2 separate regions of the Homo sapiens genome follow, and region 2 is linked to region 1. The links come from fine-mapping of genetic effects on gene expression. A gene starts in region 1. The other region holds a variant in brackets. All regions are shown on one strand. Distances are from middle to middle.

Region 1 (15,810 bases):
GTTGGACAGGTGTCGCTGGTGCAGCTGGTTGTAGATACAGTTACATGTGGGGCGACTGATGAGACGCAGGCGCAGATTGCGTAGGGTCCCAGGAGCTGGTGAAAGAGACGGGGCTGGGGCTAGAGTCTGGGATCTGGGAAGCAAGGGAGACTGGAAGCCAGGACAGTTGGGAGCTGAGACTGTGACGCTGGGCAAGCAGAGTGCCTCTCCGAGCTTCAGTCTGGGCCAGCACTTACCATCACTGGTGTCCTGATCCCAGCCAGTGGCCCAGCAGGAGGCTCCAAAGGGGAAGCGATGGGCGGGCTGGGGCAGGCAGAGGGGTGTGTGGGTCGTGGGGTGGGCGAGCTGCAGCAGGGCCAGGTCTGAGCCCTGGCTGTAGTGGTTATAGGCCCTGGGCAACTGCAGGGCAGCCACCCCCACCTCTTCGGCCCCAGGGCTGAGTCCCTCACGCTGCAGAGAACCCAGGACCACTGACCAGGAATTCAGTTCTGTTGCTGCTGCCCTGGAAGGGGAAGGACAAGGTCCAGGCTGCTGAGTGCAAGGGTAGACAGTGACACCATGGGAGACCCCACAGGTAGGTGGAAGATAGCAGAGAGCACTCCACGGCTTTTTCTTTTTGAGGTAGGGTCTCGTCCTGTCGCCCAGGCTGCAGTGCAGTGGCATGACCATGACTCACTACAAGCCTTGACCTCCCAGGCTCAAGCGATCCTCCCACCTCAGCCTCGTGAGTAGCTGGGACTACAGGCGTGCACCACCATGCCTGGCTAATTTTACAGTTTTTGTAGAGACATGGTCTTGCTATGTTGCACAGGCTAGTCTTGAACTCTTGGGCTCAAGCGATCCTCCCTCCGTGGCCTCCCAAAGGGCTGGGATTACAAGCGTGAGCTACTGTGCCCGGCCTCAGTCTGTGACTTTAAGCGAGGTCATTCCCTTGCAACCTGAGTTTTCTGATTTGTAAATCTTCTACCATGAAAGGTGGTTGTTACAATTAACTTGACAATATGTACCCAGTACATGGCAGATTCTCAGTAAATGGTTCTTTATTATTACTCTAGAGGCAGGGACTAGCCTTGTGGGGCTTGAGACAAATTGTCCACTCCCCAGAGCCGGAGACCCTGCCTGACCCCAGCCATGACTTACTTTTCAAAGCAGTGGGCAGCAGTGAGGACCCAGGTGTCTGCCACCAGGGAGCCGCTGCAGATGTGGGCTCCTTGCCTCCTCACACTGGCCTGCCAGGGCCACTCGCCAGGGACTGTGTTGCCCTCCTGAGGCTTGGGGGGGCCGGGGCCACGCTGTCCACAGGCTGTGGAAAGGAGTTAGTCACACTGACAGCAGATACCTGTCCTGACCTCACCCCAGTCCCAACCCAGACCCAAGTAAGACCTAGGCCCCGTGTCCCCAGACCTTACCACGCTGAGCGGCTTGAAGACCTGGGAAGAGAGAGACACAGGTAAGATGCAGGGACTCCAGGCCTGCCTAGCTTTGGGGAGGAGAGGGGATGGGCTGGGGGGCGGGCCCAGGGTCCTTGCCTGTGACTCTGATTACCTTACCAGCCCCTCCCAGAATGAAAATATTTATATGAGGCCGAGACAGCTTTTATTGGAACCTATTCAGTGTGCACACTCAGTAATTAATTCTCCTTCAGCTGTGCTCAGCACTCTGGGGCTTGGGGTTCAGCTTGGGAGTAGGCCAGCCCTCCTCCAGGCTTCAGAACCCCCAACTCCTGCCCCCGCCACTGAGTCAGCCAGGCGGCCTGTGTGTGTAGAGAGCATTAGCTTAATTGTCCTCTTAGCAGCAGAGGCCTAAGAGGAAGGATTAGAGGCCTGCATCATTTCCAAGTGGGGAGGGCCCCAAGAAATGGAGACTTACCTCACCCTGGTCTAGAGACTCAGTCTTCCCCACCTTCCCAGAAACTGTCTGAGAGCCCGCCAGAGAGAGGGCCCCTGCCCACCGCCCCTCACAGGCACACAGGCACCCCATGAGACAGCTGAGCCAGGCTGCCCAGAGGATGGATGAAAAGAAAGGGAAACTGAGGCCAGAGGAGCCCAGAGTTTGCCTGACGTCATTGTGGAAGTCGAGGGGGAGGCAGGCACAGGACACACGCAGGCAGCACCTCACACACACACAAGACCACAGGCCCCGCCAACGCAAACTGCAGCTGGCCCGAGAAAATCTCATCCATGTTGACACAGGTGGCCACATATACCACCCCACAGAGTCCTACGGAGTTACATCCCCACTGGTGGACTGTCGCCCACAGGCGGTCCCCCCACCAAGAAGCAGGGACTGCTGGGGCAGAGATGGCCCCTGAGCCCCCACCAGGCCACACCCATACCCCAGCACATGGCGGCTTACCCTCCATGAGGACTGTGGCACCCGCGATGAGCAGCACTGGGCCCCAGCACCACTTCATGCTGCCCCGGGCCACTCTGCCACCTGTGCTCCACTCTGAGAGAGGCCACCTGGGTCTCCCTGGCTCCACCTCTGCTCCACCTCCAGTTGGCTAGGATTCAGCTGTCTGCTTGCCCTAGCCAGCAGTTCCTAGCTCTGGGGCTGTGGCTGTGTGACCCTAGGCTTGTCACCACCCCTCTCTGGGCCTTAGCCGTGGAGCCAAATTGTCTGGGTTTAAATCTGTTTCCTTACTACTTGAGTGGCCTGGGAGAGCTAACCTGCCTGTGCCTTGTCTGAGAAACAGTTGTTGAATGGAAAACGTCTCAATGACAGCCTGGCACAGGGCAAGCTCACTCCCAGCATGAAAGTGCCATCCTGGAACCATGGAGGGCACGTGGGCAGCTCCTCCCAGTCCCCACTTTTCATTTCCACTCCCCCACTTCTCTTCCAGCCAGGGCTAGGTGGGTTTCACATGCCTTCTCCCAGGTCTGCTCAGAGACAGTGTGTGCCAGGCTGAGTGGTGAGGAGCCAGCACCCACTGCTGCTTGCTCGCTGTGAGCCTTTGGCAAATCCCAGTATCTCCCTGGGCCTGCTGGCTTCCTGGGAAACAGGGTGACAGCGGTGCCCACCTTCCTCATAGGCGCAGAGGACTCGGTCAGGCGGGAAGAACACTTTGGCGCGTGCCTCCTCTTCCTCTTCCCACTCCTAACTCAGGCTGGCCCAGACCATTCAAGAACCCTGACCCCAAGACAGAGGCAGCTGTGGGTAAGGTTTAGCATATATTATAGATGCTGGCCGGGCATGGTGGCTCACGCCTGTAATCCCAGCACTTTGGGAGGCCAAAGCAGGCAGATCACCTGAGGTCGGGAGTGCGAGACCAGCCTGACCAACATAGAGAAACACTGTCTCTACTAAAAATACAAAATTAGCCAGGCCTGGTGGCGCATGCCTGTAATCCCAGCTACTCGGGAGGCTGAGGCAGGAGAATCACTTGAACCTGGGAGGTGGAGGTTGTGGTGAGCCGAAATTGTGCCATTGCACTCCAGCCTGGACAACAAGAGCGAAAGTCCGTCTCAAAAACAAACCAACAAAAAAAAAAGCATATAGATGCTGGAGCCAGATGGACCAGGTGGATTCAAATCCTGAGAGCCTCCTGCAGTAGCTGTGTGATCTCAGGCATACTAATTAGCCACTCTGTCCCTATCATCAAGATAGGGATAATAATAGTACCCACCTCATAAATCACTGTAAAGATTAAACGAGTTTAACACGTTAACACAAGTTTTTTTTTGTTTTTTGTTTTTTTTTGGAGACGGTCTTGCTCTGTTGCTCAGGCTGGAGTGCAGTGATCATGGCTCACTGCAGCCTCAACCTTCTGGGCTCAAGCAGTCTTCCCGCCAGCTTCCCGATTAGTTGGGACTATAGGTACATACACCACCATGCCTGGCTAATTTTTTTTTTTTTTTTTTTTTGTAGAGACAGGGGTCTCACTATTTTGCCCAGGCTGGTCTGGAACTCCTGGCCTCAAGTGATCCTCCTGCCTTGGCCTCCCAAAGTACAGGGATTACAGGTGTGAGCCACTGCACCCTGCCAACACAAGTTCTTAAACAGTGCTTGGCATGTAGGTAAGTGGTCAGGGCATAATAGGCAAAACAAAAACCTTCACAACCTGGCCCTGACCCTCCAAGGCTACCAATACTGGCTTGGAATGGTCGATAAGGCAACTGGAGGGGTTAAAGTTAAACTCAAGGAAGAACTTCCCAGCAAGCATTTACAGAACCAGAAGGGCAGCCTGCCCTTCCAGGTGTGTGCTCAGCCTTCCCAGGAGAGGAGGCCTGGCTCCTGTGGGCAGCAGGAGCGAGCTGCCAGCCTGTTTCCTGGGGGTGGGGGCCAATGGTGCCCCAGGCCTTGCTGACTCCACACACTGGAGATGAGACTACCCATAACCACCCTTCCCAGCAGGCCCTCCACTCTCCCTCTGACTCACCCTTCCCAGCTCCAGAGAAGGCAACACCGAGGGAGGCCCAGCACCACAGTCCATGGCAGACACATGGTTCAGACTTGGCTGATTGATCTAAGAAACTTTATTGCTCAGAACCTTCCCTCCCTGGGCAATGGAAAGAGCTTTGGAGACCAGCCCATGGGGACAGAGTCAGAGGCACTGGGTGTAAAAAAGAGCGAGCGTGTGGCACATTTGGTCCATTGTCATGTGCGGGTATGGCAGGAGGAGGGGGTAATCTAGAAGCCCCACATCTAGGGCCTTCTAGGGACCCAGATATGCCCCCTTAGGCAAGGCTCACATGCCAAAGCAAAGCAGATGAGGTCAGCCTGGCTTGGGTTGAGGGCTCAGTGCCTCTTAGCCTTGCCCTGGGGTTCTTGGACCTTCCGGAAACTGAGCCACATCAGGCTCACGTTGATAGCATAGGTGGTGATACAAACAATGCAGAAATCATAGAGCACGAAGAACAGGATCCAGGCCAGGTAGACAGAACCAGCGAGAGACACCAGGGAGCTCAGCAGCATCAGGACAGAGGCCCAGCGTGTCCGCAGGCAACCTGCAAGGCAGAAGAGGGTCCGGTGTGGGCTTCAGGCACTGGCCACCTCCCGAACACTCCATGATGTCACTGCACTACCTAGATGCCAGGAGCTGCTGGGAAGGGTCTCTAAAACAAGAGGCTCCAGGGCAGATGTGGTGGCTTACGCACGTATTCCAAACACTCTGGGAGGCCGAGGTGGGAAGACTGCTTTAGGCTAGGAGTTCAAGACCAGCTTGGGCAACATAGAAAGACCCGATCTCTATCAAAAATTTAGAAATTCAGCTGGGCACGGTGGCTCATGCCTGTAATCCCAGTATTTTGGGAGGCCAATGGGGGTGGATCACCTGAGGTTAGGAGTTCGAGAGCAGCCTGGCCAACATGGCAAAACCCCATCTCTAATAAAAATACAAAAATTAGCCGGGTGTGTTGATGGGCACCTGTAATCCCAGCTGCTGGGGAGGCTAAGGTGGAGAATCGCTTGAACCTAGGAGGTGGAGGTTGCAGTGAGCCGAGATCATGCCACCACATTCCAGCTTGGGCAGCAAGAGCAAGACTTCGTCTCAAAAAAAAAATGCCCGGTGAGGTTGACTCACGCCTGTAATCCTAGCACTTTGGGAGGCCAAGGCGGATGGATCACCAGGTCAAGAGATTGAGACCATCCTAGCCAACATGGTGAAACCCTGTCTCCACTAAAAATACAAAAATTAGCTGGGCGTGGTGACACGCGCCTGTAGTCCCAGCTACTCAGGAGGCTGAGGCAGGAAAATTGCTTGAACCCGGGAGGCAGAGGTTGCAGTGAGCCAAGATCGTGCCACTGCACTCCAGCCTGGTGACAGAGCGAGACTATGTCGCAAAAAAAAAAAAAAAAAAAAAAAAAAAATTAGCTGGGTGCAGTGACATGCCTATAGTCCTAGCTACTCAGGAGGATCGCTTGAGCCAGGTTACAGTGAGCTATGATTGTGCCACTGCACTCCAGCCTGGGCAACAGAGCAAGATTATTTCTTAAAAAAAAAAAAAAAGAAGGCTTCAACAGGTCCCCTCCAAGGGACTGGTCTCTGAAGCTCTTGCCATTGCCCAGGGAGGGAAAGTTCTGAGCAATAAAATTTCTTAAATAAATCGGCCAAGTCTGAACCATGTGTCAGCCAGGACCATGGTGCTGGGCCTCCCTCAGTGATGCCTTCTCTGGAGCTGGGAAGGGTGACTCAAAGGGAGCGTGGGAGCCTGCTGGGAAGGGTGGTAATGGATAGTCTCATCTCCGGCATATGGCATCAGCAAGGCCTGGGGCGCCATCGTCTTCCACTCCCTTGGTTCCTCTCTCTGTTCTTATGGGACTAGATACAAATTTTCCTGCTGAGCACTAAATGAGACAAAAGATAGCTCATGCTCAGCTTCTCCTTAAAAAGGAATTTCGGCATCTTTTCCACAAAACTGGGGTGTTGGTGGGGCATGGTAGCTCACGCCTGTAATCCCCCCAGCACTTTGGGAGGCTGAGGCAGACAGATTGCTTGAGACCAGCCTGGGCAACATGGCGAGACACCATCTCTACCAAAAAAAAACAAAAACAAAAATTAGCTGGGCATAGTGGTGCACGCCTGTGATTCCAGCTGCTTGGGAGGCTAAGGTGGGAGGATCCCTTGGGCAGGGAGGCAGAGGTTGCCATGAACTGAGATCACGCCAGTGCACACTAAGGGCATCCTAGACCTCACTTTGGGCAACAGAGCCAGACCCTGTCTCAAAACAACAACAAACAAAAAACCTGGGGACCTAGGATGTCTTTAAGGGCCCTTCAGCCTCTAACAGTACTTAAACCAATTAAAAGACTCCTGTTAGTTACCTCCCCACATCCCCACCCGCAGGACGCTCCGTGATGAGCAGCTAGCTGGCTGTCAGCTGTGTGGATCACCAAGATTGCATGGAGTGGGGCTGAGCTGACCAAGGGGGATGAGGGGCGGGGCGGGGCGGGCAGGGAGGGGGCGGAGCCACTCACCTAACAATAGCTGTAGTGTGTAGAAGATGCAACCGAATATGCTGTTGGATTGATTGAGGATGCTGTCCTGTCCCAGCACATGCTCCACCAGCCCGAAACCCCTGCCCCACCTGGCAGAGGGGTGGGGTGGGGTGGAACCAGGTTAGGACTGTCAACCCAGTGCCTTGGACCCTGCCCGAGAAAGGTGATTTCCAAGAAGCCACCTGGGCTATCCTCTGTTCCCCGACCTCCCATCCTAGTCCAAGGGTCGATGATCTCCTGGCACCGGGCACCTTTGGCCACGTCAGGATTCCATGTCACTGACCCTATCCTCCCCTCTCCCCAGACCAGGCCCGGACGTGGCTACTCCGTAGGCCCTGCTTTTCATCTTAGACCTTAAGTAAGTCTCTTTTTTTTTTTTTTTTTTTTTTTTTTTGAGACGGAGTCTCACTCTGGCCCAGGCTGGAGTGCAGTGGCGCGATCTCGGCTCACTGAAACCTCCGCCTCCCGGGTTCAAGCGATTCTCCTGCCTTAGCCCCCCCGAGTAGCTGGGATTAAGGCACCCGCCATAGCGCCCGATTAATTTTTCTATTTTTGGTAGAGACAGGCTTTCACCATGTTGGCCAGGCTGGTCAACTCCTGACTTCAAGTGATCCATCCGCCTCGGCCTCCCAAAGTGCTGGGATTACAGGAGTGGGCCACCGCGCCCGGCCCTTAAGTAATTCTTAAAATGGCAAGGCTGGTATAACGGTTCACTCGGTTTTGCATCAGAGACTGGGAGTCGGGGGCAGATTATCTTTGCCCTGGACCCCAGAATCTCCAGCTCCCTGGCCACTCACTCGCCTCCTCTGTATTCCGTCATTATGCTAACGCCTGGCCATCACGCACAGCCAGACCGGGCCACCTTGTTCCTGGGCGCAGCCATCGCCAACACCCCCCTTCACCTGCGCGCCGTCCTTGAGACCATCGTCAATCTCTACCGCCATCCTGCCTCCCCGCCTTTCCTGGTCACCGTTATTCCTTGGCATCCAATTCACGTGCGAGTCCCCGGAATAATCCCAGTCCCCAGCACTGTCTGGTCCCTTGCCTCGCACTCTTATTTCGAACACCAGTATCGCTGGGTAGCTCAGCCCCTGTGCAACGACCCCGCGAGCAGTCCAGCCCCGTGTCCGTTCCCCGGGCACACCGATCCCAGACTCCAGAATAATCATCTGGCATCCTGGCCGCCCTGCTCCGAGGCCCCACGCCTCCCACTCCCGTGCACACCTGGAGGAGAAGACGCGCGAACAGCTGATGGCGGTGCCCACGTCGCAGAGCGCGCGGTAATCCCGGTCCCGGGCGCGCGCCGCCTTCACGTGCAGCGCGTAGAGCGAGAGCACTAAGCCCGTCAGGCAAAGAGCGAGCCGCACCCAGCCAGGGCTCCCCCAGGTGCTGCCCATTATCTCCAGGTTCCGCCCGAGGCGCCCGCGGAGAAAACCAGCCACGGAGCAGGGGCCGGGCGGCGAATGGCCGCGCCCCTCCTGGCCCTCTGACTCGGCGATTGGCCGGCCGTGCTCGCACTCCACGACCCAAATGGCTGTTCCAGGGCGCTAGTCAAGCGGGCGAGTTAGGAAAACAGCGAAGAATGCCGGGACTAGTGAAGCGGGTAAGGGACGTGCGGAATCGCGGCCCCAGCGGCTGCCAGGCATGATGGGAGTTGTAGTCGGCGCGGCTGCAAGGCATCAAGGGAAATGAAGTCTCCACAGATTTAAAAACTGTTGGCCGGGCACGGTGGCTCACGCTTGTAATCCCAGCACTTTGGGAGGCCGAGGCTGGCGGATTACCTGAGGTCAGGAGTTCAAGACCAGCCTCGCCAACATGGTGAAACCCCATCTCAACTAAAAATACAAAAATTAGCCGGGCGTGGTGGCACATGCCTGTAATCCCAGCTACTCGGGAGGCTGAGGCAGGAGAATTGCTTGAGCCGGGGAGCCGGAGGTTGCAGTGAGCCGAGATCGTGCCACTGCACTCCAGCCAGGCCGACAGAGTGAGACTCTGTCTCAAAAAAAAAAAAGAAAAAAAAAAGTGTGTTAGTGTGGTTAACAGCATTTGCGCTTACCCTATGCCAAGTCCTGTTGTAAGAATTGCAGCATCCGGGACCTAGAGACCAGCGGATCAGGGGATCCAGCGAATACGGCGATCCGATTCGGGAACCAAGCATTTCCCCTGAAACTATTTCAGGCACCATTCGGGCTGCAGCCTCCCATCCTCCCGGGTCCTGCCTCACCAGTGCTTCCTGGTGGTCGGTCTCCCTTTCTCCCATACATTCACAGAACCACTCCTTTGGCCACACACACCCTTGACAGTATCCTAACCTCTCTACTATCATGGCGCCCGCCTGGCAACACCTGAGCTTGCATCAACTCAACAGTCAGTCTCTCCTTTCCAAGCTGTGGGCCAGATGAGGTCTCTCCTTCACAGACGTCCCATCTGATGGTGACCCATCTCTCCTACACCTTCAACCTCTCCATCCTCCCCATCTACACTGCAACTTGTTTCTCTTTCCCATCTCAGAAACAGCAACAAATCTCCCTTCACTAAGAGGTCCTTCACCAGCCTCCTCTCCCGGCATTATCCCATCTACCCCTCCACATTCAAGTTTTTGGAAAGATTCTACACTCCCAGTCTCTACTTCCTCACTTCTTCCTTGCTGCCCACGCCATAAACTAGCTGCTGCCTCCAGCATTGCCCTGACACCTAGTGGCTGGTGTCACCAAGACGCTAGACCCAATGGTTATTTATTTATTTATTTACTTATTTTGAGACGGAGTCTCACTCTGTCGCCCAGGCTGGAGTGCAGCGGTGCCATCTCGGCTCACTGCAACTTCCGCCTCCAGGGTTCAAGTGGTTCTCGTGCCTCAGCCTCCCAAGTAGTTTGGACTACAGGTGCCTGCCACCATGTCTGGCTAATTTTTGTATTTTTAGTAGAGACAGGGTTTCACCATGTTGGCCAGGCTTGTCTTAAACTCCTGACCTCAAGTGATCCACCCACCTCGGCCTCCCAAAATGCTAGGATTATAGGCGTGAGCCACCGCACCCGGCCAATGGTTGTTTTTCAGGTCTTCTCTTGCTTGACTTCCCAGAGGGATCCCTTACTGTTGCACCTACCCTTCTGGGAACTCTCTTCCTCTGGCGTCTGTGATATTTCCCTCTCCTGCTGGCTCCTCCCTCTCCAGATGCTGTTTCTCACATCTACTCTCTTCTAGAGAGTGTGGTAGACAGAATAATGGTCACCAAAGATGTCCCTGCATGAATCCCTGGAACTTGTGAATATGATAGGTTAAATGGCCAAAAGGGAATTAAGGTTGCAGATGGAATTAAGCTGACCAATCTCCTGATTTTATTTTATTTTATTTTGTTTTTGAGGTGGAGTTTCGCTCTTGTTGCCCAACTGGAGTGCAATGGTGTGATCTCGGCTCACTGCAACCTCCGCCTGCCAGGTTCGAGAGATTCTCCTGCCTCAGCCTCCCGAGTAGCTGGGATTACAGGCACCCGCCATCATGCCTGGCTAATTTTTTAAATTTTTAGTAGAGACAGGGTTTCGCTATATTGGCCAGGCTGGTCTTGAACTCCTGACCTCAGGTGATCCGCCCACCTCGGCCTCCCAAAGTGCTGGGATTACAGGCGTGAGCCACCGTGCCCAGCCTATCTATCTATTTATTTATTTATTTTTGAGATGGAGTTTTGCTCTTGTTGCCCAGGCTAGAATGCAATGGTGCTATCTCGACTCACCGCAACCTCCACCTCCCCGGTTAAAGCGATTCTCCTGCCTCAGGCTCCTGAGTAGCTGGGATTATAGGCATGTGCCACCACGCCTGGCTAATTTTTTGTATTTTTAGTAGAGATGGGGTTTCTCCATGTTGGTCAGGCTGGTCTCAAACTCCTGACCTCAGATGATCCACCCACCTGGGCCTCCCAAAGTGCTGGGATTATAGGCGTGAGCCATCATACCAGGCTCTATTGATTTATTTTTATTTTTATTTTTGAGACGGAGTCTCGCTCTGTTGCCTAGGCTGGAGTGCAGTGGCACAATCTTGGCTCATTATAACTTCCGCCCCCCCCCAGGTTCAAGCCATTCTCCTGCCTCAGCCTCCCGAGCAGTTGGGACTACAGGCGCGTGCAACCATGCCTGGCTAATTTTTGTATTTTTAGTAGAGACGGGGTTTCACTGTGTTGGCCAGGCTGGTCTCGAACTCCTGACTTTGTGATCTGCCTGCCTCAGCCTCCCAAAGTGCTGGGATTACAAGTGTAAGCCACCACGCCCAGCCTATTTTGTTTATTTTTTCAAAGACCCTTGACACCCAGGCTGGAGTGTAGTGGCACTGTCATAACTCACTGCAACCTCCGTCTCCCAGGTTCAAGCGATTCTTGCACCTCAGCCTCCCTAGTAGCTAGGAGTACAAGTACGTCCCACCACACCTGGCTAATTTATTTTTATTTTTGTAGAGATGGGGTCTCACTTTGTTTCCCAGGCTGGTCTAAACTTCTGGTTTCAAGCAACCTTCCCACCTCAAAGTGCTGGGAGTACAGGCATGAGCCACCACCACACCTGGCCTAATTTGCTGATTTTTATTTATTTTTTATTATTTATCTTAATTTTTATTTTGAGACAGAGTCTTGCTCTGTCATCCAGGCTGGAGTACGGTGGTGCAATCTCAGCTCACTGCAACCTCCCCCTCTCGGGTTCAAGCAATTCTTGTGCCTCAACCTCCCAAGTAGCTGGGATTATAGGTGCTGGCCACCACGCCTGACTAATTATTGTAATTTTTTTTTTTTTTAGTAGAGACGGGATTTCACCATGTTGGCCAGGCTGGTCTTGAACTCCTGACCTCAAGTGATCCACCTGCCTCAGCCTCTCAAAGTATGGGGATTACGGGTGTGAGCCGCCGTGCCTGGCCCAATTTTTGTATTTTCAGTGGAGATGGGGTTTTGCCATGTTGGCCAGGCTGGTCTGGAACTCCTGACCTCAGGTGACCCGCCTGCCTCCGCCTCTCAAAGTGCTGGGATTACAGGCATAAGCCACCATGCCTGGCCCACAGGGGTCCTTAAAAAATGAAGGAGGATGGCAGAAGAAAGTCAGAGGGAGATGTGAGTAAAGAAAAAAGACACAGAGAGCTGCAATGTTTCTGGTTTGAAGATGGAGGAAGGGGATTGTGAGCTAATAAATACGGGTGGCCTCTAAAGGCAAGAAAGGGTAAAGAACTGGATTCTCACTCTAGAGTCACCGGGAAGGAACTATCAACATCTTGATTTCAGCCCAGTGAGACTCTGTCAGACTTCTAAGCTACAGAACTGTAAGATAAATTTGTGTTGTTTTACATCATTAAATGTGCAGTAACTTGTTACAGCAGCAATTAGAAATGAATACAGAGGACTGGGCATTAGGCCTGTATCTCAGCTTTCTCTGATCTCCTGGTGTGTTCCTGTTATTTATTGTTGGTTTCCCCCAGAATGAGTGATCTAAGAGGAAGCAAAATAGAAGCCGCAATCTCTTTATGACTTAGCCTCAGAAGACACACACTGGGGCCAGGTGCAGTGGCTTATGCCTATAATCCCAGCACTTTGGGAGGCTGAGGCAGGAGGACCACTTGAGCCCAGGAGTTTGAGACACCCTGGACAACACAGGGAGACCCTCACTCTATAAAAAATAAACAAAATTAGCCAGGTGTGGTGGTGCACACCTGTAGTCCCAGAACTTTGGGAGGCTGAGACAAGACAATGACTTGAGCCCAGGAGTTTGAGACAGGTCTGGACAACGTGGTAAGACTCTGTCTTTATAAACATTTTTAAAATTAGGCGGGGCATGGTGGCTCATGCCTGTAATCCCAGCAATTTGGGAGGCTGAGGTGGGTGGATCACCTGAGGTCAGGAGTTTAAGACAAGCTTGGCCAACATGGCGAAACCTCGTCTCTACTAAAAATACAAAAATTAGCCGGGCATGGTGGTGGGTGCCTGTAATCCCAGCTACTCAGGAGGCTGAGGCAGGAGAATCATTTGAACCCGGGAGGTGGAAGTTGTAGTGAGCCGAGATTGCCTTCCTCACTCCAAGAGTTATAAAAGATTTTGACCATATTTTCTTCTAGCATTTAATCAATTAATTAATTAATGTGAGACAGTCCCACTCTGCTGCCCAGGCTGAAATGCAGTGGTGCAATCTCGGCTCACTGCAACCTCTGCCTCCCGGATTCAAGTGATTCTCCTGCCTTAGCCTCCTGAGTAGCTGTGATTACAGGCACCAGCCACTATGCGTGGCTGATTTTTGTGTTTTTAGTAGAGACGGGGTTTCACCATATTGGCCAGGCTGGTCTCAAACTCCTGACCTCATGATCCGCCCTCCTTGGCTTCCTAAAGTGCTGGGATTACAGGCGTGAGCCACTGTGCCTGGCCTTTTTCTTTCTTTTTTTTTTTTTTTCATTAGAGATGAGTTGTTGTTATGTTGCCTCTAACTCCTGGGCTCAAGCAGTTCTCCCACCCTGGCTTCCCAAAGTGCTGCTGGGATTACAGGAGTGAGCCACTGCCCCCAGCCTCTGACAGTTTTTGTGCACTAGGAATTTGGGAAGACAATTTTACCTGGCTATTTCTGGCTCATACAATTGCAGTCAGATGGTGGCTAAAGCTGGAACAATAAGCAGCTAAAACAGCTGAAAGATAACCTAGCATTCTCTCTCCCTTTCTCTGAGTAGTCTCCGAACCTATCTATGTTGTCCTCTGCATGGGCTAGCTTGGGCTTCCTCACAGCATGGCAGCCTTAAGGCTTTAATAGTCAGCTTCCAAAATGGTCCTCAGTGATTCCTGCTTCCTGGTATTGATACCATTGTGAAGTCTCTTCTCACATTGAAAGGGGCTGAACTGGCCCATTGGGATAATGCAGAAATGACAGTGTGTGACTTTAGAGGCTAAATCATGAAGATATTGTGGCTTCCATCTTGCTCCTTTGTAGATCACTCATTCTAGACAAAGCCAGCTACCATGATATGAAAGCACTCAAGTAACCCTAGGGAGAGAGGTCTCCTTAGTGAGGAACTGAGGCCCTGTAAGAAACGTGGGTGTGCTGCAGTCAAGTGGGCATAGGCCAAAGTAAACATCCAGAGTGACTCAGTGAGTTTAGAGTGCAGGCATATAGCTCCACTTGTTATCACAGCCGTGTAGCCATAACATGGGAAGGCTCATCACTTGGCTCTGAGCCACTGTTGTCTGTAAAAGGTATAATTGCCCTGCTGACACTGTGCACAGGGCTCGGCCCAACATGGCTTGACATGGGACATGGCTCTTGTGCAGGTGCTTGTACCCAGAGAAAGAGAGAAAGCCAGAGCTGTCCATCTCGGGGAAGCCAAGACACAGCTCAGCTAGCTCATGCCCAGAGGGAGAAAGAGTAAGGCTGTGGGGTGTGGTGGCTCATGCCCATAATCCCAGCACTTTGGGAGGCCAAGGCAGGTGGATCACAAGGTTAGGAGTTTGAGACCAGCCTGGTCAACATGGTGAAACCCCTTCTCAACTAAAAATACAAAAATTAGCTGGCCATGGTGGTGCATGCCTGTAATCCCAGCTACTCAGGAGGCTGAGGCAGGAGAATTGCTTGAACCCAGGAGGCAGAGGTTGCAGTGAGCCGAGATCACACCACTGCACTCCAGCCTGGGCAACAGCGCGAGACTCCATCTCAGGAAAAAAAGAAAAAAGAAAAGAAAAGAAAGAGTGAAGCTGCTGACCCTGAAGGGAGAGCTGGCCACACAGCTGTGTGTGTGTGGGAGCTGCCGGAGTAAGCAGCTGAGACAGAGCAGACAGTGCGAGAGTAAGATGTTGATGATGAGAGAGCTGCTGAATAAAGCCATGTCTCATTTACCTGCTGTCTCTCGAGTGTTCTTCTAGCTCCCTGCCTCACGTCCACTGCTTCCTCTCACACCTCAGCTGGGGCTGGACCCCAACCCTGAGCATGACGGGCCTTCTGTCAACAACCAGCAGTAACCTGCTGGGCATGTGAGGGAGCTACCTTGGAATCAGATTCTGTAAAACAGTCACGCCTTCAGATGACGGTAGCATTGGCCAACATTTTGACTGCACTTCATGAGAGACCCTGAGCCAGAACCCCCTAGATTCCTAACCCAAGGAAACTGTGTGTGATAAGTGTTTATTGTTTTTTTTTTTTTTTTTTTTTTTTGAGAAAGAGTCTCGCTCTATTGCCCAGGCTGGAGCACAGTGGCACAATCTTGGCTCACTGCAAGCTCCGCCTCTCAGGTTCACACCATTCTCCTGAATCAGCCTCCTGAGTAGCTGGGACTACAGGCACCCACCACCACGCCTAGTTAATTTTTTTGTATTTTCAGTAGAGACAGGGTTTCACCGTGTTAGCCAGGATGGTCTCAATCTCCTGACCTCGTGATCCGCCCGCCTCCGCCTCCCAAAATGCTGGGATTACAGGCGTGAGTCACCACACCCGGCCAGTGTTTATTGTTTTAAGATATTGGCTAGGCGCAGTGGTTCACACCTGTAATCCCAGCACTTTGGAAGGCCGAAGTGGGAGGATCACTTGAGCTCAGGAGTTCAAGTTCAAGAACAGCCTGGGCAACATAGTGAGACCTTGTCTCTATTTAAAAAAATGTTTTTAAGATGTTATGTTTGAGCTGGGTATGGTGTGGCTCACGCCTGTAATCCCAGCACTTTGGGAGGCTGAGGTGGGTGGATCACCTGTGGTCAGGAGATGGAGACCAGCCTGGCCAACATAGTGAAACCCCGTCTCTACTAAAAATACAAAAAATTAGCTGGGCATGGTGGTGGGCGCCTGTAATCCCAGCTACTAGGGAGGCTGAGGCAGGAGAATCGCTTGAACCCGGGAGGCAGAGGTTGCAGTGAGCCAAGATCGTGCCATTGCACTCCAGCATG
Region 2 (15,810 bases), 37 kb before region 1:
TTTTTTGTTTTTGTTTTTGAGACGGAGTCTTGCACTGTCGCCCAGGCTGGAGTGGAATGGCACGATCTCGGCTCACTGCAACCTCTGCCTCCTGGGTTCAAGCGATTCTCCTGTCTCAGCCTCCTGAGTAGCTGGGACTACAGGGGCCCGCCACCACGCCCGGCTAACTTTTTGTATTTTTAGTAGAGACCGGGTTTCACTATGTTGGCCTGGCTGGTCTTGAACTCCTGACCTTGTGATCTGCCCCCCTCGGCCTCCCAAAGTGCTGGAATTACAGACGTGAGCCACTGCGCCTGGCTAATTTTTGTATTTTTAGTAGAGACAGGTTTTCACCGTGTTGGCCAGGGTGGTCTCAAACTCCTGACCTCAGGTGATCCACCGGCCTCGGCCTCCCAAAGTGCTGGGATTACAGGCATGAGCCACCGCACCGGGCCCTGTCCTTCCTTCTGAACGGGAGTGTGCTCTGCTGTTCTCCTGTCCTTGTTCTGCTTTATATGTTGGATGTGTTCGTGTGTGTGTGTGTGTAGAAATGGGGCACAGGTAACTTGTCTCTGTCTCTCTCTTATTTTGTAGCTCATAGGTCTCTGAATCAAGAGAAGCCACATCTGGACCTGATATAGAAGAGACTATTAGAGATCCTGGGCTTGAGGCTGATTCCATGTCAGATGGGTCACTTAGGTGGTCTCCCTTGGGAAGGGGATGCATTTATTTTGCATATGGAAGAAAATGCAAAGGCAGTATTTGTAAGGAAGAGGGCAGACGGGGGAAGATTTTATAATTGTTCAAAAACATTCACTGGGATGTGTGTGGTGGCTCACGCCTATAATCCCAGTGCTTTGGGAGGGTGAAGCAGGAGGATCACTTGAGGCCAGGAGTTTGAGACCAGCATGGGCAACATAGTGAGACCCTATCTCTACAAAAAATAAAACAATAAAAAAAAATTAGCTGGGCGTGGTGGTGCTTGCCTGTAGTCCTAGCTACTTAGGAGGCTGAGGTGGGAGGATCACTTAAGCTCAGGAGGTAGAGGCTGCAGTGAGTTATGATTGCACCATGCACCTATGCACTCCAGCCTGGGCAACACAACAAAACACTGACTCTAAAAAAACAACCAACAAAAAAAAATCACATGTATTCACTGGCCCTCTCTTTGGGGACCTGCTACATAGAATGGTTTTTTGTCCCCAGTTCACTGACATCAGGTATGGCTATGTGGCTTGCTTTAGACCATGGACTTTGAGTGGAAATGACATGTGCCACTTCCACGAGGAAGCTTTAAAAGCCGTCATGGGGTCTGCCACCTTTCCTCTCTTCGGTGTCTGGAGACGGAAAGTTCCAGCTTGAGACTTTTCCTTCAGACAGGGCTCTAGAATGAAGATAGCATAGAACAGAGTGGTCCCATGGAGGACATGGATATGAGTGAGAAATCAACATGGTGTTGTGAGCCCCTAAGATTTGGGGGCTGCTATTACTGCAGCGTAACTGGATCCCAGCTGATAGATGCAGCCTCCCTGTGGGATACCCTGCTCAGGTATCCTTTCCCATCACCATGACAACTGACACACCATAATGAGCTATGCTGATGTTAGGAAGTCTCCGCCTTTGCTCCTCTTCAGAGCTGTTCACCCTCAGGTCCTAACCAGTGAGCCTATTTCTTTTTTTCTTTCTTTTTTTTTTTTTTTTTGAGATGGAGTCTTGCTCTGTCACCAGGCTGGAGTGCAGTGGTGCGATCTCGGATCAATGCAACCTCTGCCTTCTGGATTTAAGCAAATATTGTGCTTCAGCCTCCTGAGTAGGTCTGGAACTCCTGACCTCAGGCCATCCGCCAGCTTTGGCCTTCTAAAGTGCTGGGATTACAGGCATGAACCACCGTGCCCAGCCAAGCCGAGTCTTCTTGATTCTTGCTGGCATTTGGCAACTAGTAGCAGCTGCTCACAGGAACTGTAAAAACATCTGGTGGGGCCCAGACCTTCTAGCATCAACATGGTGCCTAGTAAATATCAATCTCACATGCATCCTGAGATGCATTAAAAAGAAGCTGTCCAGGCCGGGCACGGGGGCTCACGCCTGTAATCCCAGCACTTTGGGAGGCAGAGGCGGGTGGATTGCTTGAGCCCAGGAGTTTGAGACCAGTCTAGGAAACATGGCAAAATCCTAGCTCTATTTTTAAAAAGGGGGGGAAAAAGAAATAAAAAAGCTGGGCATGGTGGTTCACACCTGTAATCCCAACACTTTGGGTGGCTGAGGCAGGTGGATCACTTGAGAGACCAGCCTGGTCAACACCATGAAACCCCATCTCTACTAAAAATACAAAAATTAGCTACACCTCATGGTGCACACCTGTAGTCCCACCTACTCGGGAGGCTGAGGCAGGAGAATCGCTTGAACCTGGGAGGTGGAGGTTGCAGTGAGCCCAGATCACGCCACTGCACTCTAACCTGGGCTAGAGAGTGAGACTCTGAAAAAAAAAAAAAAAAAAAAAAGAGAAAAGAACATAATGTTTGGCCAGGCATGGTGCCTTACACCTGTAATCCCAGCAGTTTGGGAAGCCGAGGGGGCGGATCACCTGAGGTTAGTTCAAGACCAACCTAATCAACATGGTGAAACCCATATCTACTAAAAAAAAAAAAAAAATTAGCCAGGCGTGGTGGTGGATGCCTGAAATCCCAGCTACTTGGGAGGCTGAGGCAGAAGAATTGTTTGAACCCTGGAGGCAGAGGTTGCAGTGAACCGAGATTGTGTCACTGCACTCCAGCCTGGGCGACAAGAGTAAAACTCCGTCTCAAAAACAAAACAAAACAAAAAAGAATCATAATGGTTAGTAAGTGAAAATTCTGAATTAGTTTGTGTATGTGTATTGTTGCATATAATAGAGACCCAAATTAACTGTGGCTTAAATAAGATAGAAGTTTATTTCTCTCTTCTATAAAAGTCCAAGTTAGTATGATGGATCTTTCCATGAAATCATTAGGAGCCAGATTTTTTGTATCATTCATTCATTCATTGATTCATTACTACCATTAATAGAGACAATTTTCTGCACCATTCAGGCTGGAGTGCAGTGGTGCAATCATAATTCACTGTAACCTCAAAATCCTGGGCTCCAGCGATTCTCCTGCCTTAGCCCCAACAAAGTAGCAGGGACTACAAGCACATGCCACCACGCCTGGCTAATTTTTCTTTTTCTTTTTTGTAGAGGTGGGGTGTTACTATGTTGCCCAGGCTGGTCTCAAACTCCTGGCCTCAAGTGATCCTCCTGCTTCACCCTCCCAAAGCTCTGGGATGACAGGCATGAGCCACTCTGCCCCTCCAGGTCTTTTTTATCTTGTTGCTGTTCCATCCCTAGGGCGTTGCCCTCACCCACATGATCCAATATGATTCACCACCACTTCCACAGTCTGGCCCTTCTGAGGGGTGATGGTTTGCCCTTTGCCCTAAAGAGCATGATTCAGAAGTACAGATCATTTTTGCTCTAATCCCCATAGCCAGGATGTAGTCATATGGCTACATCCCGATGAAAGTGTTGCTGAGAAATAGAATCTCTACCCTGAGCAGCTTTTTGCCCAGATAAAAGTTCAGTTACTCTGGGAGAAGGGTAGAATGGATACTGGGGGACCATAAGCTGTTGCCACCACACACATTGAATGTTAACCCATCCCAACTGTATCAATTTTTCCTTCCTTTCCTTCCTTCCTCCCTCCCTCCCTCCCTCCCTCCCTCCTTCCTTCCTTCCTTCCTTCATTCCTTCCTTCCTTTGTTCCTTTCTTTCGACAGTCTCCCTCTATCCCCTAGGCTGGAGTGCAGTGTTGCCATCTCGGCTCACTGCAACCTCTGCCTCCCAGGTTCAAGCAATTCTCCTGCCTCAGCCTCCTGAGTAGCTGGGATTACAGGCGTGCTCCACCATGCCCAGCTAATTTTTGTATTTTTAGTAGAGACAGGATTTCCCCATGTTGGCCAGGCTGGTCTTGAACTCCTGCCCTCAGGTGATCCACCCACCTCAGCCTCCAAAAGTGCTGGGATTATAGGCGTGAGCCACTGCCTTGGCCTCAAACGGTATCAATTTTCTGTTACTGATTTAACCAATTATCATACACTCAGTGGTTTAAAACCACACACATTTACTTTCTTACAGTTCTGGAAGTCAGAAGTTCAAAATCAGTTTCATTGAGCCAATGTCTGGTGTCAGCAGGGCTGGTTTTTGTTGGTGGCTCTGGTGGACAATGTTTCCTTGCCTTCTTCAGCTCTTTTTTTTTTTTTTTTTTTTGAGACAGGGTCTCGCTCTGTTACCCAGGCTGGGGTGCAGTGGTGCAATCATAGCTCACTGCAGCCTCCATCTCCCAGGCTCAGGCGATCCTCCCGTGTTAGCCTTCTCAGTAGCTGGGACCACAGGCTCACGCCACCACGCCCTGCTAATTTTGTTTATTTTTTGTAGAGATGAGGTCTCACTCCATTGCCCAGACTGGTCTCAAAGTCCTGGATTCAGGAGATCCTCCTGCCTCAGCCTCCCAAAGGTCTGGGATTACAGGTGTGAGCCGTTGCACCCCACCCTCTTTCAGTTTAGAAAGGCTACCTGTATTCCTTGGCTGGTGGGTCCATCCTCCATTGGAAAGCACATGAATCCATCTCTGCCTTCATCATCACTCCACTTTCTCCTCTGAGACTTATTCCTCCTGTGTGCCTCTTAGGAGGATGTTCATGATTACATACCGCCCTCTTGGATAATCCTGAATAATCTCTCCATCTCAGGATCCTTCACATTTTCAAAATCCCTTTCACCATATAACGTGACATTCACAGATTCCAGGAATAGGACGTAGACATATTTAGGGGGGTTCTCTATTCAGCCTACTGTACCATGCCATTCCACACTTAACTCCTTCACTCATTTATTCATAAAATATGTATTGAGCAAGACCTGTGTGCCAGGCATTGTGTTAGGTGCTAGAGAAATAGAGGTGAAAATACAGACAAGGCCTCTGCTTTCATGGAGTTTATATTCTAGTGAAGAGGACAAGTAAATAGCTAAGCTATTCTTTTTTTTTTTTTTTTTTTTTTTGAGACGGAGTCTCCCTCTGTCGCCCAGGCTGGAGTGCAGTGGCGCAATCTCGGTTCACTGCAAGCCCCACCTCCTGGGTTCACGCCATTCTCCTGCCTCAGCCTCCTGAGTAGCTGGGACTACAGGCGCCCGCCACCACGCCCAGCTAATTTTTTGTATTTTTAGTAGAGACGGGGTTTCACCGTGTTAGCCAGGATGGTCTCGATCTCCTGACCTCATGATCCACCCGCCTCGGCCTCCCAAAGTGCTGGGATTATAGGCGTGAGCCACCATGCCCGGCCAAGAGCTAAGCTATTCTAAGCTATAACGTGTATTATCAAAACAATTAAGGCCAGGCACAGTTGCTCACACCTGTAATCACAACACTTTGGGAGGCTGAGGCGGGTGGATCATTTGAGGTCAGGAGTTTGAGACCAGCCTGGCCAACATGGTAAAACCCTGTCTCTACTAAAAATACAAAAAAATTATCCAGGTGTGGTGGTGCATGCCTGCAGTCCCGGCTACTCGGGAGGCTGAGGCACAAGAATAAGAATTGCTTGAGTGGGGAGGTGGAGGTTGCAGTGAGCCAAGATCATGCCACTGCACTACAGGCTAGGAGACAGAGTGAGACCCTGTCTTAAAAAAAAAGCAATTAGGCCAAGTGCAGTGGCTCATGCCTGTAATCCCAGCACTTTGGGAGGCCAAGGAGGGCAGATCACGAGGTCAAGAAATCGAGACCAGCCTGGCCAACATGGTGAAACCCTGTCTCTACTAAAAATACGAAAATTAGCTGGGTGTGGTGGCGCGTGCCTGTAGTCCCAGCTACTCGGGAGGCTGAGGCAGGAGAATGCCTTGAACCCGGGAGGTGGAGGTTGCAGTGAGCCGAGATCACGCCACTGCACTCCAGCCTGACGACAGAGTGGGAATCCATCTAAAAAAAGAAAGAAAGAAATTGGCTGGAGAATCGCTTGGACCCAGGGGTGGAGGTTGCCATGAGCTGAGATTGTGCCACTGCACTCCAGCCTAGGCAACAAGAGCAAAACTCCGTCTCAAAAAAAAAAAAAAAAATCCCAGCACTTTGGGAGGCCAAGGAGGGCAGATCACGAGGTCAAGAAATCGAGACCAGCCTGGCCAACATGGTGAAACCCTGTCTCTACTAAAAATACAAAAAATTAGCTGGGTGTGGTGGCGGGTGCCTGTAGTCCCAGCTACTTGGGAGGCTGAGGCAGGAGAATGGCATGAACCTGGGAGGCGGAGCTTGCAGTGAGCCGAGATCACACCACTGCACTCCAGCCTGGGCAACAGAGCAAGACTCTGTCTCAAAAAAAAAAAAAAAAAGAAAAGAAAAGAAATTAAACAGTGTGATGTGACAAAAAGTGATAGGGGGTTGGAGACAGCTTTTCTGTTGGATGGTTAGGAATGGCTTCTTAGAAAAGATGACTGACACATGGGAGGCTGATGTGGCAGATCACGAGGTCAGGAGATCAAGACCATCCTGGCTAACACGGTGAAACCCCGTCTCTACTAAAAAATAGAAAAAATTAGCCGGGTGTGGTGGCGGGCGCCTGCAGTCCCAGCTACTAAGGAGGCTGAGGCAGGAGAATGGCGTGAACCCGGGAGGCAGAGCTTGCAGTGAGCTGAGATCACGCCACTGCACTCCAGCCTGGACGACAGAGCGAGACTCCATCTCAAAAAAAAAAAAAGAAAGAAAAGATGGCTGACACAGAGGGCAGAGCTGAGAGCCAAGAGGGCAGAAAAGAGCCATAGAAAACCATTTCCAGGCCTGGAAGCCTAAAGGAATTTCCCAGCTGGATTTGCAGTTGCTTTGGATTGGTGACTCCTTTTTACCTTTCATTGTTAGGGGACCTGCAGGTTCCTTTGCCTGCTGTGCAGCTACAGCTCCATTACACCAAGACAATAGGGATGCAGCAGAGAGAGTTACTGGTGCAGGGCACCTAGTGCAGAGATGGGAAGAGGCCCTCAAATCTATCTCCCCGAGCAATTCTGGGAGAGGGTTTCTAAGGGGACTGTGGAGGGTAGGGGATTGTGGAGGGTAAGGTTTTGGGCAACTGGGTCATTGATTGATTGGGGGAAGGATGTAGAAGCTGCGTTTTTGGGGGAATTAGCTCCTTGTGGGGTCCTTCAGGTCAGCTGAGTCAGTAGTTCCATGAGGACCTGAAGGAATCTCTTTTCTTTTCTTCTTCTTCTT[C/T]TTTTTTTTTTTTTTTTTTGAGATGGAGTCTCTCTCTGTCGCCAGGCTAGAGGTGCAGGGGGTCGCAGGCTAGAGGTGCAGTGGCATGATCTTGGCTCACTGCAACCTCCACCTCCCGGGTTCAAGCAATTCTCCTGCCTCAGCCTCCCAAGTAGCTGGGACTAGAGGTGCGTGCCACCACACCCAGCTAATTTTTGTATTTTTAGTAGAGACAGGGTTTCACCATGTTGGCCAGGGTGGTCTCGATCTCTTGACTTCGTGATCGGCCCCCGCCCCACCCTCGGCCTCCCAAAGTGCTGGGATCACAGGAGTGAGCCACGGTGCCCAGCCTTAATTTTTGTATTTTCAGTGGAGACGGGGTTTCACCATGTTGATCAGGCTGGAGTGCAATGGTGCAATCTTGGCTCACTGCAACATTCGCCTCCTGGATTTGAATGATTCTCCTGCCTCAGCCTCCCAAGTAACTGGGATTACAGGAATGCGTCACCACGCCCGGCTAATTTTGTATTTTTTTAGTAGAGACGGGGTTTCACCATGTTGGTCAGGCTGTCTTGAACTTCTGACCTCAAGTGATCCACCTGCTTTGGCCTCCCAGAGTCTGAAGGAATATCTCAAAGGGAACACTTAATGTTGTGTAATGTCCAGGTTGTGATCCATAGAGCAGTTAAAGGTAAAGGTAACTATAATTTTTTTTTTTTTTTTTTAGACAGAGTCTCCCTCTCTGTCACCCAGGCTGGAGTGCAGTTTCACGATCTCGGCGCACTGCAACCTCCGCCTCCCTGGTTCAACCAATTCTCCTGCCTCAGCCTCTCAAGTGTGTGCTGCCATGCCAGGCTAATTTTTTTTTTTAGACGGAGTCTTGCTCTGTCACCCAGGCTGGAGTGCAGTGGCACAATCTCGGCTCACTGCAACCTCCGGCTCCTGGGCTCAAACAATGTGTTTTTTCCCCTAGTACTTTGGTGTTTGATTATCTTTTTTTTTTTTTTTTTTTTTTTTTTGAGATAGAGTCTCGCTCTGTCACCCAGGCTGGAGTGCAGTGGTGCAATCTTAGCTCACTGCAAGCTCTGCCTCCTGGGTTCATCCCATTCTCCTGCCTCAGCCTCCCAAGTAGCTGGGACTACAGGCACCCACCACCACGCCCGGCTAATTTTTTGTATTTTTAGTAGAGACGGGGTTTCACCATGTTAGCCAGGATGGTCTCGATCTCCTGACCTCATGATCTGCCCGCCTCAGCCTCCCAAAGTGCTGGGATTACAGGCGTGAGCCACTGCACCCAGCCTGGTGTTTGATTATCTATTATGTCAAACAGGCTGGGTTTAGTGGCTCACGCCTGTAATCCCAGCACTTTGGGAGACTGAGGTGGGAGGATCACTTGAGCCCAGGAGCTGAAGACCAGCGTAGCAATGTAGCAACTCCCTGCCTCTACAAAAAGTTAAAAAATTTAGCTGGGTGCACCAGTAGACCAGCTCCTCAGGAGGCTGAGGAGGGAGGATCACTCGAGCCCAGGAGTTCAAGGCTGCAGTGAGCTGTGATCATGCCACTGTACTCCAGCCCAGGCAATGGAGCGAGACCCTGTCTCAAAATAAATAAAACATGAAGAATGTCGAACACATTATCTGGTTTTTGTTTTTGTTTTCTTTTTTTGAGATGTTGTCTCGCTCTGTCACCCTGGCTGGAGTGTAGTGGTGCGATCTCGGCTCACTGCAACCTCTGCCTCCCGGGTTCAAGCGATTCTCCCGCCTCAGCCTCCCGAGTAGCTGGGACTACAGGTACGTGCCACCATGCCTGGCTAATTTTTGTTATTTTTTTTTTTTCAGTAGGGACAGGGTTTCGCCATGTTGGCCAGGCTGTTCTGAAACTCCTGACCTCAGATGATCCACCCACCTCGGCCTCCCAAAGTGCTGGGATTACAGGTGTGAGCCATCGTGCCCGGCCTGTTTTAAAAAACCATATTGGCCCAACTCGGTGGCTCATGCCTGTAATCCCAGCACTTTGGGAAGCCAAAGCAGGAGGATTGGTTGAGCTTAGGAGTTTGAGACCATTCTGGGCAACATGGTGAAACCCTGTCTCTGCACAAAAATAGAAAAATTTGCCACCTGTGCTGGTGTGTGCCTGTAGTCCCAGCTACTCTCAAGGCTGAGGGAGGAGGATTGCTTGTAGAGCCTGGGAAGTCGGAGCTGCAGTGAGCCATGATCACACCACCACACTCTAGCCTGACAGAATGAGACCTTATCCCAAAAGAAAAAATAAATGATATTGTATTATATGTGAACTTTGAATTATATTGTGTTGTATCTGAAGTTTGAATTTTCACGTTATGTTTAAAAATCTTGGCTGGGCGTGGTGGGTCACGCCTGTAATCCCAGCACTTTCGGAGGCCAAGGCGGGTGGATCACCTGAGGTCAGGAGTTCGAGACAAGCCTGGCCAACATGGTGAAACCCCGTCTCTACTAAAAATACAAAACTTAGCCGGGCATAGTGACATGCACCTGTAGTTCCAGCTACTCGGGAGGCTGAGGCAGGAGAATCGCTTGAACCCAGGAGGCAGAGGTTGCAGTGAGCTGAGATCGTGGCATTGTACTCCAGTCTGGGCAACAAGAGTGAAACTCCATCTAAAAAATAAAAAAGAAAAAGAAAAAATAATACAAGAAATTAGCCGGGCGTGGTGACAGGCACTTGTAGTCCCTCCCAGCTACTCAGGAGGCTGACGCAAGAGAATTGCTTGAACTTGGGAGGTGGAGGTTGCAGTGAGCTGAGATCGTGCCATTGCACTCTAGCCTGGGAAACAAGAGCAAAACTCAGTCTCAAAAATAAATAGCTTGAACCCGGGAGGCAGAGGTTGCAGTGAGCTGAGATTGCACCACTTCATTCCAGCCTGGGTGATAGAGCAAGACTCTATCTCTAAATAAATAAATAAATAATCCTTTAGGATGGCAATGAATTTAAGGACTAAACTAGGGAGAATCGACTTTTTTTTTTAAAATGGAGTCTTGGTCTGTCGCCCAGACTAGGGTGCAGTGGGCGCCATCTCGGCTCACTGCAACCTCCACCTTCCAGGTTCAAGGGATTCTTGTCCCTCAGCCTCCCAAGTAGCTGGGATTACAGGCACCCGCCACCATGCCTGGCTAATTTTTGTATTTTTAGTAGAGATGGGGTTTCACCATGTTGGCTATGGTTGGCCAGGCTGGTCTTGAACTCCTGACCTGAGGTGATCTGCCTGCCTCGGCCTCCCAAAGTGCTGGGATTACAGGCATGAGCCACTGTACCCAGCCCATTCGACATTATTTATTTATTTATTTATTTATTTATTTTTTGAGGTGGAGTCTCACTCTGTCGCCCAGGCTGGAGTGCAGTGGCACAATCTCGGCTCACTGAAACCTCCGCCTCCCGGGTTCAAGCCGATTCTCCTGCCTCAGTCTCCCGAGTAGCTGAGATTAGAGGCAACCACCACTATACCCGACTAATTTTTGTATTTTTCAGTAGAGATAGGGCTTCACCATGTTGGCCAGGCTGGTCTCGAACTCCTGACGTCAGTTGATCCTCCCACCTCAGCCTCCCAAAATGCTGGAATTAAAGCTGTAAGCCAGCGGGCCTGGTGGACATCTTTTAATAATCAGTCTTTCCATTCAGGTATATGGTATATGTCTCCATTTACTTAGGTCTTATTTCATATCCTTCAGGTTGGAGCTATCATTTCTTTTCATACAGGTTTTGCACATTTCTTGTGAGGTTTATTCCTTCATGGTCCATGGATTTTGTTGTGAATTGGGAATCCTTTTTCCACCAAGTATATTTTCTAATTTGTTACTTTAGTATACAGGAAAGATAACTAATTTTTATCTGCAGTTTATTATCTATGAAAGGATAAAAGTAGAACTACTCAGTAAAAGGTTTCCATAATCAAATAAGTATGGGCTAAACAAAGCTAAACAGATGTGTTCACTGCTGGACTTATCAATGCTTGTGATAATTTTTTTTTTTTTTTTTGAGGCAGAGTTTTGCTCTGTAGCCCAGGCTGGAGTGCAGTGGCGGGATCTTGGCTCACTGCAACCTCCACCTCCCGGGTTCAAGTGATTCTCCTGCCTCAGCCTCCCGAGTAGCTGGGACTATGGCATGCACCACCACATCTGGCTAATTTTTGTAATTTTAATAGAGACAGGGTTTCACCATGTTGACTAGGCTGGTCTCAGAACTGTTGACCTCAGGTGATCTGCCTGCCTCAGCCTCCCAAAGTGCTGGGATTACAGGTGTGAGCCACCACCACCAGGCAATTGAAGACGTATATTCTATGAAGAAATGGGTAGATTTTAATGAACAATACCCCTTTTGTGGGCAGATTCCTAAGTCCCAGGCCCTCACAACAAAGGGGCAGTGGGCCTGGAGATGCCAGCTTCAGCTGCCAGAGGGACTGCTCCTCCAGGGCCACCCCAGCCCACTTTTGATCACCAAGTTTTGATCACCAAGAATCCCAAGAAGGGCACAGGGAATTTCCTTTCTTACCTGCCCATGAAACCTTTTGTCACTAGACATCCTGAAACATACTTTGGGAAACTGCATCCAAAGACCCTTCTAGTTTCAAATCTGTGGATCCAGGGGTCTCCACTGAACCTTACCTGATGCCCAAACTCCCACCCATTCACTCCCAACCAGAACACAGAAGATGACCTGGTGCCAAAATGAAAGCTTTAATGAGTGTTACTCCTAGACAGTCACGTCTCAGCTTCTGCCAGCCTCCACTGTCCCAGCTCTCTTAGCTGGCCGACAGGGGAGCTAGTTGCTGAGGGGTAGGGATCTGGAGTCTAAAGAGCAGAGCCAGGCAAAAGGAGGTACAGGAAGCCCCCGATGGGGGCTGGGCTCCCGGAGTGTGGTGCTGGGGGGTCATGGGCTTCAGGCCGGCCCCTCTTCAGGCATTCCTAGCAAAGCCACCAGGGGCTCCAGGGGTGTGGGGGTCCCCATGGGCACAGGGTGGGTGCGTTCATGCTTGCGCAAGTCGCTGGCACTCAAGAAGGCCTTGGGACAATGGGGGCAGGTGTAGGGGCGCACTGAGCTGTGAGTGCGGCTGTGTTTGCGCAGCCCAGCCCGGTCAGAGAAGCTCTTGCCGCACTGGGTGCAGGGGAAGGGCCGGAGCTCCGGGTGTGAGCGCTCGTGCCGACGCAGCAGCGTCATTGTGGAGAAGGTCTCCTTGCACTCTCGGCACACAAACTGGGGGGGCTTCTCGTCAGCCTCCTCACCCCCCGCCTCGCCTGCCCCTTCCAAGGGACCAGGAGCCTCCCGGACACCAGCATCTTGGCATTCCACATGCTCCACCGTCATGCCCACCACCTGCCACTGTGTGGCCATCACACCACCTGACTCCGGGGGCAGCCCTAGCAGCCCTGCTGGAGGGTCCCCCAGCCCCGCCCCTGCTGCCGGGGCGGCTGAACTCTCACCTGCCACGCCCACAGGCAGCGCCAACCCCACCACCAGCTCCTGTGCAGGGGGCACACCCGCGGCCTCACTGCTTCGATGGGTCCGCTCGTGCTTCCTCAGGCTCGACGACACCACAAAGGATTTCCCACATGCGTTACAGTGGAAGGGGCGCTCCCCCGAGTGCACCCGGCTATGCTTCGTGAGGCTGGCACGCTCGGCGAAGGCTCGCCCGCACTCCTCACAGCGGAAGGGCCGCTGGCCAGAGTGCACCAGCGCGTGCCGCTTGAGGTCCCAGGACGCCACGAACGTCTTGTCACATTGCAGGCACTTGAACGGCCGGTCGCCTGTGTGCACACGCCGGTGCATGGCCAGGTCCGCCGGCTGCCGGAAGTCCTTGCCGCACTTCTCGCAGTGGTATGGCTTCACCCCTTCATGGGCGCGCTGGTGGCGACGGAAGCTCGAGGGGTCGGAGAACATGCGGCCGCAGCGCGGGCACAGGAAGGGCTTCTCCCCCGAGTGCGTGCGCTCGTGGCTCTGGTAGGAACTGAGCTGCGTGAAGCCCTTGCCGCAGGCCGGGCAGCGGTAGGGCTTCTGTGCCGCGTGGATGCGCTGGTGGCACGTGAGCGAGGATGAGCGGGAGAAGCTCTTCCCGCACTCGGAGCAGAGGAAGGGGCGCTCGCCGGTGTGGGACCTGCGGGGGTGTGGAGGACTTGGCATGAAGGCGACAGACCCATAACGTGACCCCACTGCCTGTCTGGGCTGTACTTTAGGGGCTCCCCAAACGTTCGTGGGGGCCTAGGCTTAATCCCCTAAGAGCCACATGGCTGCACCCCAGAGGAAGAAGCCTTCAGGCTGGCTGGGTGTCTCTATTCCAAAGACCTGTCTCTGCACATTAAAGACCAAGATATGGGCCGGGCGCGGTGGCTCACGCCTGTAATTCCAGCACTTTGGGAGGCCGAGGTCAGGAGATCGAGACCATCCCGGCTAACACGGTGAAACCCCGTCTCTACTAAAACTATAAAAAATTAGCCAGGCGTGGTGGTGGGTGCATGTAGTCCCAGCTACTCGGGAGGCTGAGGCAGGAGAATGGCGTGAACCCGGGAGGCGGAGCTTGCAGTGAGCCGAGATCTTGCCACTGCACTCCAGCCTGGGCGGCAGAGCGAGACTCCGTCTCAAAAAAAAAAAAAAAAAAAGAAAAAGAAAAAAAAAAAAGACCAAGACATGGCCAGGCGCGGTGGCTCACGCCTGTAATCCCAGCACTTTGGGAGGCCGAGGCGGGCGGATCACCTGAGGTCAGGAGTTCAAGACCAGTGTGACCAAAACGGAGAAACCCCGTCTCTACTAAAAATACAAAATTAGCCGGGCATGGTGGCGCATGCCTGTAATCCCAGCTACTCGGAAGGCTGAGGCAGGAGAATCGCTTGAACCCGGGAGGCGGAGGTTGCGGTGAGCCGAGATCGCGCCATTGCACTCTAGCCTGGGCAACAAGATCAAAACTCCGTCTCAAAAAACAAACAAACAAAAACAAAACAAAACAAAACAGAAAACCAAGATACGTGTCCTCCGCCTTTTTTTTCCTGTTCCCCAGGCTGGAATGCAGTGGCCTGACCATAGCTCACTGCAGCCTCGACCTCCCAGGCTCAGGCCATCCTCCCACCTTATCCTCCCAAGTACCCGGGACTAGAAGTGTACATCCCCACGCTCGGGTAATTTTTTTATTTTTATAGAGACGAGGCTTGCTGTGTTGCCCAGGCTGGTCTTGAACTCTTGGGCTCAAGCAATCCTCCTGCCTCAGCCTCCCAAAGTGCTGGAATTATAGGCGTGAGCTATTGTGCCCAGCCTAGAAACATGTCATTAATGTAGAGGCTGAGAAAAAGAAAAAAAAAAATGACCTAGACAAACCAGGCCCCACTCACACCTCCTGGTCTCCACAAAAGACCCTCAGAACTGCCCAACTCCAAACCCCGCCCCCTTTCCAGCTGGCCTACAACGGAGGCCAATCTGACCCAATCCCATTCTCAGAGATCAACCTCAAGGTGGTTGCCACCTCTGCCCAATCAGGGGCACCAATTTCTCCCACATGCCTAGCCCCTCCCCTTGGATCTGCCATGCCCACCTTCCCATTGGCTCACTTTACCCTGAGACTCAAACCCAGGCCCCATTGGCTGCAGCAACGCTGTCGCCCTGCCCCGGAAGGCGCCCTGCCCCGGAAGGCACCCTCACCGCTCATGGTTGCGGAGGTCCTTGAGCTCCGCATAGGCTTTGCCGCAACGCTCACAGCTGTAGGGCCGCAGGCCAGCGTGAGTACGCCGGTGCTTGCGGAACACTGAAGGGTCAGCAAAGCTCTTGCCGCAGTCGGCGCAGGCGTAAGGCCGCTCGCCTGTGTGGCCACGCTGGTGGATCTTGAGCTTGGAGAGCGCGCCATAGGCCTTCGGGCAGTGCGCACAGCGGAAGGGCAGTTCGCCAGCGTGCGAGGCCAGGTGCACGCGCAGGCACACGGGCTGCATGAAGCGGCGGCCGCACTCGGGGCACGGAAAGGGCTTCTCCCCCGTGTGGCTGCGCCCGTGGCTGCGCAGCTCGGGTGCCGTCTTGTAGGCCTTGGGGCATAGCGGACACGCATAGGGCCTAGGCTTGGCCGCGGAGCCTGACACCTTCTCCCCACTGGCTTCCTCTGCCTTAGCTTCTGTCTCTGGCTTTGGCTTCACCTCGGCCACCTCTTCAGAGCAGTCTGCCGGCCCATGTGTGGCAGCGTGGCGCGCTGCCCTGGGCGCGTTTGGAAATGTCTTGGTACAGGACAGGCACTTGTAGCGGCGGCCCGAGCGCTTGTAGCCGGGGGCTGGGGACCGGGCCTCTGCAGCCTCCACTTCCATGGCCTTGGTGAACGGGGTTTCTCTGCAAGAGAAGCAAAGTTAGACCAAAGCCACATACCTTCGCCACTCCTGAAAGCCTCAGAGAGAACCCTATCTCATCTGCATTTCTCACCTCGGAACCCACACATCCTTCCTGCCCAGCATTCCTGGCTCTGACATCCTGCGTTCGTTTCCTCCCTGATCTGCTCATTGAAGAAAGGAGTTGGACCAAGTGTCCGCAGAGCCACTAAGAAAGGAGGCTGAGGGTCACAAAAGATTCACCTACACGTCCCCCCCCGCCCCCAACGGGC

What was found.
Region 2: its variant is fine-mapped to the expression of VKORC1 in whole blood (INTERVAL, PIP above 0.99).

What each region holds. Positions count from the first base shown.
Region 1 is chr16:31,086,397-31,102,206 of GRCh38, forward strand. VKORC1 (vitamin K epoxide reductase complex subunit 1) reads right to left here and starts at 8,401. Exons shown (of 3, transcript NM_024006.6): 1 at 8,161-8,401; 2 at 6,916-7,025; 3 at 4,458-4,946. The coding sequence starts at 8,333. The coding sequence ends at 4,738. LOC124903680 (zinc finger protein ENSP00000375192-like) reads right to left here and starts at 9,609. Exons shown (of 1, transcript XM_047435012.1): 1 at 8,488-9,609. The coding sequence starts at 8,982. The coding sequence ends at 8,488. It overlaps PRSS53 (serine protease 53), which reads right to left and starts at 2,547. Exons shown (of 11, transcript NM_001039503.3): 1 at 2,356-2,547; 2 at 1,410-1,430; 3 at 1,141-1,303; 4 at 237-502; 5 at 1-95. The coding sequence starts at 2,413. RefSeq lists enhancers at 6,626-7,334, 8,515-8,694, 8,725-8,774, 8,825-8,874, 9,390-9,569 and 1 more.
Region 2 is chr16:31,048,940-31,064,749 of GRCh38, forward strand. It overlaps ZNF668 (zinc finger protein 668), which reads right to left. Exons shown (of 3, transcript NM_024706.5): 2 at 14,874-15,542; 3 at 11,908-13,341. The coding sequence starts at 15,520. The coding sequence ends at 12,129. Among named protein-coding and RNA genes, the nearest start is that of ZNF668, 17 kb to the right of the region's middle. RefSeq lists enhancers at 14,711-15,338, 15,339-15,810. The variant C/T (reference allele first, on the strand shown) is at 7,242.